Regions from separate parts of the Homo sapiens genome. Here region 2 is linked to region 1. A link means that fine-mapping ties the variant in region 1 to the expression of a gene that starts in the linked region. Tissue or cell type: whole blood. Region 1 holds a variant in brackets; the other region holds the start of a gene. All regions are shown on one strand. Distances are between the middles of the regions.

Region 1 (4,511 bases):
AGGATTCTTCTATGTACTACTCAGATATAGTATGGCGCTATGGCTAGAATTTAGAGTTTTCCCAGCTCAGAAAGTGGGCAATGACCTGGACAGCCTCTTGGGATGCAGCTGGGATCCTAACTAAAAAGAAGCCAGGCTGGGCTTTCACAGGGGACAGTTGGGGTTGAGAAGCTCCATCCCCATGGCCTCCTTCCGCGGGACCCACTAAGGCTTGTTGGGACACGGCAAGCAATTTCCCATCATTATTATTCAGGGGAATTTCATCCATTCGAGTGGAGGTTTTGTCCATTTCTGGTTATTCTGAATTCCATAGGATTCCAGGCCCTTCCGGCTCTGAGGAGGAAACTTTCTAGCAAATGTGGATGCTTGTTTCCAGTCCTGTAGTTCCATATTCACATATTTTCTCACTCACGGAAGGGGTCAGGAAGAGAGCCGAAACCTCAGCAGGAAACTGGGTTGGGGGTCTAGGATGGAGCAGATTTGGAGCAATGCAGTGTTTTTGGAGCCAGGCCAGGGAATGCTGTGGTTATTACTCATTGTATTTCTAATGTTTCACAGGCAGAGCTTGGCGGTGTGCTTGATGCAAACATGGCAGATATGAACCTGGTGTTGTACCCGTGGGTCAGGATGAGGCAGGCATGGGTGTGTGTGAGGCCCTGGGTGTAGAATCAACCGAAAGTGGAGGCTTGCTAAGAAGACTCTATCTCCAATAAATCAGCTACCTGTGGGTCTGACTCCAGTCAAGATTGGCACCAGACTACCCTGGCTGAAGTGTCAGGGCCTCCCATCAAGGTCACGCATGGAAGGAGGAATCCGAGGGAAGCTGGGGAAGGTTGCTGGCTTCTCGCCTTGGGTGGAAAGGCGGAAGCCCTGGGGTGGGGGTTTAGGAGCAGTGCTTCTGTCCCCGCAGAGTTGGCTTGGCCATGACGGAAGAAAGCCCGGATCTCAAGCTGGGGCCTTCCAGAGGAAGGGGAGTGCTGATGTCAGGCAATCAGTCATGGAACTTTGATGTTGGGATCCAGTCCCTTGGGAGGGGAGTCCTTTTTTTTAAACTTTTAAGTTCAGGGGTACATGTGCAGGTTTGTTACATAGGTAAACTTGTGTCAGGGGGGTTTGTGGTACAGATCATTTAATCACCTAGGTATTAAGCCTAGTACGCATTTGTTATTTTTCCTGGTCCTCTCTCTCCTCCCATTCTCTACCTCATGATAGGCCCCAGTGGAGTAGGGGACCTTCTGAGTCCTGAGTCACAGCAGCTTTTATAAAGACAGGTTTTTCTTGGTGTCCGGTAGGCTCCCCTAGCTGGGCCAGCAGAGGGAGGTGGGTGCAGAGGATGGTGGGGAGGGCAGTGGGAGGAAAGGGAGACAGACAAGAGCAAGGGCTCCTGCTGGAGACTGGGTTCCTCCCAGGTATTAGGCCTAGCATGATGGGGTTTGTTCGGGGAGCTCATATCAGGGAACAGGAGCAGGGCTGAGAGAGTGAAGTGGGGAGAAGGGCAAGGTCTTCCACAGTGCTTCCTCAGGCTGGCCGCCACTGTGGGCTGCCGGATCCCATCCACTGGGCACTGAGGAGCTGGGGGGGACTTGCCTCTCAGAGTGGTCTGCCTGAGGACAGAAGGAGGAGCCGTCATCCAGTACATGCCTTCCCTTGGTCCAGGGCTGCCACACAGAGTCATTCCCAGGCTGTGTGGGCACCATGCGTGTGTCATAGAAAAGGTGCCCACAGGTACCTCCTGCAGGAAGCTTGTTGCTGCCACAGTGGCTGGAGTAAAAGGTGGGATGAGAAGCCGTGACGTTGAGTTCAAGCAGAGAGCTCTGTGATATGACGGGAACAAGAAAGGCTTCTGCACTGTTCATGAACTTGGTTGTAGCTTGTGGGTAACCCATGTCTTTCTATCTGGGGGAGGGAACATTGATCACCTTCAATTCCTGGGTTTCTGCTAGATGACCTGATTCCGGGGGAAGGTACCAGCTTTGGGAGTCAAGAAAAGCAACTCACCTAACGTATCTATCTGAGTCTTAGTCTTCTCACCTGTAAAATGGGAATAATAATTTATTTCCTATCTCCTGGGTATTGTGAGTTAATAGGGAATTACAATAATAAATTTCCAAAGGAAATGCCTTGCAGTGTGTAAATCCCTCTGCAGGTGTGAAGTGAAACTAATAGTGAAACACAGACGCATGTGAACTGTCGGCAGTTATGACAGCTGGCCCCTTGAGGGTTCTAGGTGCCTAGAGACTGTCTGGCACTTTTATATGCATAATATCATCTCATCCTCCTTGCAGCTCCTATGGCAGTCACTGTTATTATTCCCATTTACAGATGAGGACACAGAAACTCAGAGAGAGCAAGGGCCTTGCCCTGGGCCCTGCAGGAAGTGGTATTGGGAGGCTCCACGCTGCCTGTCTGCATTGCAGAAGCTCAGCCCCTTTCCTGCCCCAAATCTCTCACCACTGCTTGGTTAAACACGGTGTTACCTGGCTGTGTAGCACTGTGGCAAGCGGTCTACTAATCCTGATTGGATTCTAGGAATACCAGCAATGGGATGGCTGCCACCTGCTGACAGGGAGAATGGAGGAGGCCAAGGTCAAGCCCAGGGGCAGCCTGCCTTGGTCCTAAGTGTGAGCGGCTGGTGGAGATGAGCCAGGAGGAGGCAGAAGCTGGTAAGGAGG[C/T]TGGTTTTGCCTAGTACAAGGATTGTTACCAGGGCTCCATGAATAGGCTTGGGGCAGTGTCTCAGCCTCTCGAATGGCCTGTAAATGTATGGGCCCATGGGTGCATATGCTTTTTTCTAGGAAGCAGGTTCATCATTTTTATTAGTGTCATAATAATCCATGACCCTGAAGTTTGAACAGCAGTTCTCCATTGGGCCACCCTGGCATAAATGCAAGTGGTACAGGGCCCCTTGGATATCTCTGTACACATTGAGACCTGGACAACTTGTCCTTCTGAATGGCTTAAATCCCAAGAATTTTGCCTCTTTACGTGGCTGCTTTAATTTTATGTTTTTACCTTTTTGCTACTATTACTTATGAGCCAGAATTAGGAATTTTCCAAGAACTGGAGGGAGGGAAAATGTGTCCCAGCTTCATCACCCACGTGCTCTCTTCCACCGCCTTTACTTTTGTCTGCATTTTCTCCAAAAGGGTTAATGTTCTTATCAAATTCAGTTTTCTTTCTTTCACTAATGCGTATTCATGCTCTTTCAAGCAAGCAAGCAAATGTGCTTCTATTAGGCAATCAGTTCTGCAGATTACATTTTTTTAGTTGCTAGGCTAGAAAAATAAAAATAACCTAATAAGAAAGTGTTTATGTTGGAAGTAGGTATTCCAAAAAGAATAGTTCTTTTAAAAATAATTCCCCAAACAACTCTTAACAGGTCTTGATTCAAAGAGGTTTTGTTTTCTTTTTTTTTTCTAGCGTGAAAAGCAATATACATAAGCCAGATCCTTTCCTTGGGCAGCGTGGTTAATACTAGCACACATCACACCTGGTATTTGACTTCTCAGAAACTTGCTAAAAACCTTGTGTGGCCATAATCCCTGACTTGATTAACTGTTATTGAGTGTGTTCTGCAAAGTAACAGGAGCTTTAGATGTCTCCTGAAAAGAAAAGCAGAACAGACACAGATTGCCGAAATGAAACAGCAACACAGTGATGATATATTTTCACAACTTGAAATACTAAAAACGTGGTCAAAAGGATCCATCCGAGTCAGAGATTGGGCTCTGTCTGTGGCCACAGCGGAAGCCAGGTGCTGTGGGCTCACCACCCTGACCTTGGATGGATGGCAAGACTTGCCACCCCCACCCTCCTACTGAGGAGTCCCTTGGAGAAATCAATGGCAAAACTGGCCCCAAGCATGGAAAGGGGCTGCAGTTCTAAGGTGGACCGGGGCAGAGCTTGCTTTCTGTCTTCTGAGAAGTGGCTGGGGTAAGACCAAGTCTAGTGGACCTCTTGATGAGTAGATATCTGCCCTGCCCTTAAAAAGCCAACAGCAAACTACAGTGTAGGCACGGTTGCCAGATAAAATACAGACTGCCTAATTAAAATTGAATCTCAGATGAACAAGGAATAGTTTTTCAGTATAAGTATGTTCCATGCAGGTAGATGTCATGCATATTTCTGATATTGCTTGGGATATTCTTATCCTAAGAAGTGATGTGTGGTTTCCCTGAGATTGAAACTTAGCTGAGCATCCTGTATTTTTATTTGCTAAGCCTGGATACTCTAGCTCAGGGCAAAGTAGGCGCGGACAGGCTGTGTTGGCTCACCTTTCTGGTCAGGGCTATAGATTGTGCTCTCAGGTTCTAGGACTTCATGTAGCTGGAATGATGCAGTATGCCTTCTTTTGTGTCTTGCTTCTTTTACTTGGTATATTATTTTGAGATTCATCCCTGTTGCTGCCTCTATTGTAGTTTGTTCCTTTTTATTATTGAGTAGTATTCTACTGTAAGAAAATACTACAGTTTATTATCACGTCTGGATGGGCCTTTGGGTTGTTTCCAGTTCTT
Region 2 (4,256 bases), 33 kb after region 1:
AGGAGACAGCCAAGTTCAGGCCCCAAGCACCCAGCTCCTCCTCCCAGGGTGGGAGCCTGGCCAGAGTTCCCGACCCACCCCGCCCCATTCCCCGCTGGCGCTTGGTCCGCCCCTCCCCGTCTGGAAGCCTCCAGCAGCCCCGCCCGGCGGAACTAGGGGACGGGTGGGGGACGTCGAAGGGCGAGGGCGGTGACCCCGGGGCCAGAATTCTCGCAGGCGCCTGGGCCGGGTGCCCGGCCGTGCGTGAGTGCGGAACAAGTCTGGGCGCGGGGAAGGGCGTGGGTGCGGGCCGTGGGTGGGTGCGGGGCAGGGCGCGGGGCTGTGGGAGGGCGCGAGGCCGTGTGTGGGTGCGGGGCTGGGTGCAGGCCGTGGGTGGGCGCGGGGCCGGGGCTGGCGGGGCAGGGCGCAGGCTGCTGCAAGGCGGCCTCGTGGATTCTGGCCCCGGACGCACGAAGCGGGTTCTACTTTTTAAAAAAACTGCGTTGCCTTTTCCTTCCTCTACGTTAGCATCCTGTCCGGGGTCCCCGGCCCATGTGGCCTTTCTTCCAGCGACAGTACACTTAGCTCAGAACGGATTGACACCCACTCTGTGTTTCCACCGGGCGCGCAGGCTCTGCAATGCGGAGCGCGTTCTCTGAAGGACAGGCCCCGGAGTCACGGCTACAGCCACAGAAAGCGGAAACCGAGCTGCAGTCCAGAGGGGATCCCCGTACATTTCCAGCGGGCTCAGACACAGGGTCCCCCACAAGAAAGAAACAGGACAGAAAAAGTCAGGACACGTATGCTGTGGAGAGTCGAGGTCTCGCCTAGATCTTGGGTGTGGGTAGACGCAGCCGCTGGCAGTTTTCCTTTCCAGCGTCTCTGGGGAGCCTGGAGATGTCCTTGGTGCCGATGTGACACGAAGAGTGATTGCGCCGCCCTGCAGAGGCGGTGGCGGGACGCTGCGCTCGGGCTGGGAAAGGCCGGCCCCAGGGCGACCCCTCCGGAGGCCCCCGGAGAGCAGGTGTGCACCTCGCCTCCCGCTGGGCAGCCAGTTCAGGAGAAAAATGTGAAGCTTTTAGCTAAACAAAATATTTCTTTCGTTAAGGGCTTTCTCCACACGGAGACTTTCTAGCCACGTGAGACTTTGACCTCCCAGTCCCCCAGATTCAGCGCTGGGACCGAGCGTCTGCTGTTATTTTTAGTAGAAGTATAAAAAGAATCTCGAAAAGTTTTAGCTCTGGAGAAGGCGTGAATACAGCTGGTGCCTTCATACACTCCACTTGAGCCGCTCTTTAAGAACTCCAGGAGATCAGAAAGCAATACGAAAGCCAGAGCATTGCACATGGGATGGGCTGGCGGGTGGCCTTTGGGTCCCTATCTTATGGACGATTTTTGTAAATGGGGCATTGGAGATGAGTATCACCTGGATCACATTTTTAGGTTGAATTCCTCCGTGGGGGGAACTTTAGCAATACGCATCCAAATAAGAATGTAGATTGCAATAATTGTAGTAAAGTGTTTGCCAGACTCATCTCAGAAAAAGACATTATCAAAAGGCATTTATTATCTTCCTAATGCGTGTCTGGCACTGGGCAGACACTGTAGAATACTATCTTGATTAGAGTCTCAAGGATTTTGTACTTAAAGTCCTTTACAAATAAAAGTATTCAAGTATAATCTATTATAAAGACTCTTTTCTCCACTTTGGGGATATACGGTGTGGCATCGATTCATTGGTCATACCAAAACTGTTACTTCTGTTTTGGAGGAATTAACAAGGAAAACCCAGGCTTAGTAAATCAACATCGAAGTTCAGAAGTTCAGAGTAATTTGTCTTGGGAACAAAGTCCTCCCTAGAGCGAAGAGGCATTCACAGGAGCTCTTGGTGTTAATGGGATTATTCAAGATATACCTGAGACCAGATAAATATTTGATGATTTTGCCAAGCACTAGGGTTTCTTTGCAGTTTGTCTTTGGCTGACGTTTTCCCCCCGTGGGGTTTGGACTTTGTGGCTTCACCAGATTTTGCAAATGAAAGAAGGCTGGGGTTTCCCAAGAGTACACTTGTGCAGGAAACAACAGACTAGTGAGGTTTACAAGAGGGGGGTGTGTGTGTGTGTGTGTCTGCCTGTGGGATGGGGGTGGCACGGGGGAGAGAGAGATGTGGGTTACAAAGCTGCCATCTAGAGGCTAGAGGCTCCTTTCTGCAGTGTATATAATGCAAGTCTGCAGCCAGCAGAGCTCACAGTTGTTGCAAAGTGCTCAGCACTAAGGGAGCCAGCGCACAGCACAGCCAGGAAGGCGAGCGAGCCCAGCCAGCCCAGCCAGCCCAGCCAGCCCGGAGGTAAGGAAACGGTGCTCGGGCAGCAGCTCTGCTCGGAAAGAAGGCACGGCTTCTGCTCTTAAGCCAAGTGGTCTTTTCAAAGGCCTTCTTTAAAATCGCTCAGATGGGTGCTTTTGAGTCTGCGGGTCTGGTTTCTGAAAACCCAGGCTGCACGCAGCTGCATTGCAAAGTGCTTTTGCTAATTCGGAGGGCTTCACCTTTCTCTTCAGAAAGCAAAGGGCAGTTTTCTTAAGTCACTTGCAGAAGGAAATTTCCATGTGTATTTAGGAATCTGGTGTTTATTTGCTGTGTGGCTATTTAAGCTCCAGTAAGCAGGGGAACTTTGCAAGAACACAGACTATCCATTCTGCCTGACCAATTTGGCATGGGGATTAGCTTGGCACCCACTGTTTACCTGTTTTGCTTCTAGTATATCAGTTTGGAAACAGATAAAATTGGCAGTAAATACGTAATTCCAGAATGATGAACACTTTATTAAGAGGCATCCTTAAATGGAGCAGAAAACTGCTGAGAATCTTTGTGAGTCCAAGATGTATTTGAATTCAGTACTTTGGGGGATTTACCAGAGTCTGTAAGTCCGGAAGCTATAAACGTGAATGTTAAACACAGCCCGGTCTTCTCTTCTCTTGATGGCACGCTTGCTAATCTAATTTGAGTATTGTTCTCTTAGAAGGTGTTAAGTCCAACTTCAATTGGGGTTGGGGGAAGCACACACACAAATCTACTATTTTGCAATTTAAATATACTCTTCAGGTAAAATGTGGATTTTGTTCAATTTTGTTGGCATGTGCAAAGATTCAAGGAGTGACTGAGAGAACTTTGGAGTGAGGTCAGGGATGGGTGGTTAGCCAAGACTTGTAACTTCCAGGGAGAATGAGAAGTTGTAAAAGTCAGACTGGCTGTCTCTCTTTCTCTCTTCCTCTTTCTTTCTTTCTTTCTTTCCTTTTGCTCACAACAGGATTACTTAGTGTTTCAAAAGTGGGAGAGAGCCTCCTTAAATGGTTTACAGCCCTTTGAATGTATTTGGTGCAGTGACATCCCCTGAAACTTCAGTCTGCAAAGTCTCAACATGGTAACTTTGTTCTTTTCTTTTTTAAAGGCAGATGCTGCTTTTAGTGTCCCTTTATTTATTCCAGGAAAAATGTGGACATCAGCTAGGCACGCCTAGCAAAGAAAGTGGAGGCTGCTGGTTTCTGTGCTTTAACTTTCCATAGATTTTAAATGGATAAACTGCTTGCCCTTCTTTCATCAGAATATGAGCTTTCCCCAGATGGAAAGTCTTTTCTAAAGCAAAGTTGCACATGGGAGCTCTAGCTTGGAAACAATTTGCTCTTTTTTCCCCAGTCTCTGCCATAAACACTTGAATGTGCACACAACTGCAGAGCTTAATGCCACAACCTCCAGGAGATTGGGGGGAGGGGAAAGCTGCCCAGGATGGGGGTGGGAAAGCGAAGGAAGATGGAGAAATGGCTGCAGTTTGCTGCCCATCAGCTTTTCTCTTTTAAGGGGCAGACATTGCAGACGTAGTTTTAAAAAAGTTCCATAAAGCATCGCCAAGGCAGCATGCCTGTGCGACACACGCAGGGCTTTGGGGGTGTGTTTTCCCCGTATTAACAGCAAGTCGTTGAAGCGTTGAGAAGGTATTATGATTTCTAATCAGGCCCAGAACAGGCCAAGTATAGGCTTTCTGAATGAAAAAAAAAAAAAAAAAAAAAAAACCCAAAACAAAAAACCCTGCTTAATCAGGAACAGTGGCTTTTTGTGTGATCATTTTAGGGCGAGAGCTCCTGTTTTCAAGTCGACGTGAGGGAAATTGGTTGAAGTCACTCAAACCTGAGGCTGAAGGGCAGTCACTTTATAAACCTTAAGAGTAACCGAGGGGAAAGAAAAAGACCTCAAAGATTGCAAAACTTTAGATTTTTTTTTTGTG

What was found. PIP is the estimated chance that this variant, and not a neighbour inherited with it, causes the effect.
Region 2: ACKR3 starts here. The variant in region 1 is fine-mapped to the expression of ACKR3 in whole blood (INTERVAL, PIP 0.98).

What each region holds. Positions count from the first base shown.
Region 1 is chr2:236,534,685-236,539,195 of GRCh38, forward strand. It overlaps a transcript of ACKR3 not described here. Among named protein-coding and RNA genes, the nearest start is that of DRC11, 29 kb to the left of the region's middle. RefSeq lists enhancers at 2,207-2,426, 3,530-3,579. The variant C/T (reference allele first, on the strand shown) is at 2,673.
Region 2 is chr2:236,567,599-236,571,854 of GRCh38, forward strand. ACKR3 (atypical chemokine receptor 3) reads left to right here and starts at 2,227. Exons shown (of 2, transcript NM_020311.3): 1 at 2,227-2,326. RefSeq lists enhancers at 1-587, 588-1,463 and a silencer at 237-286.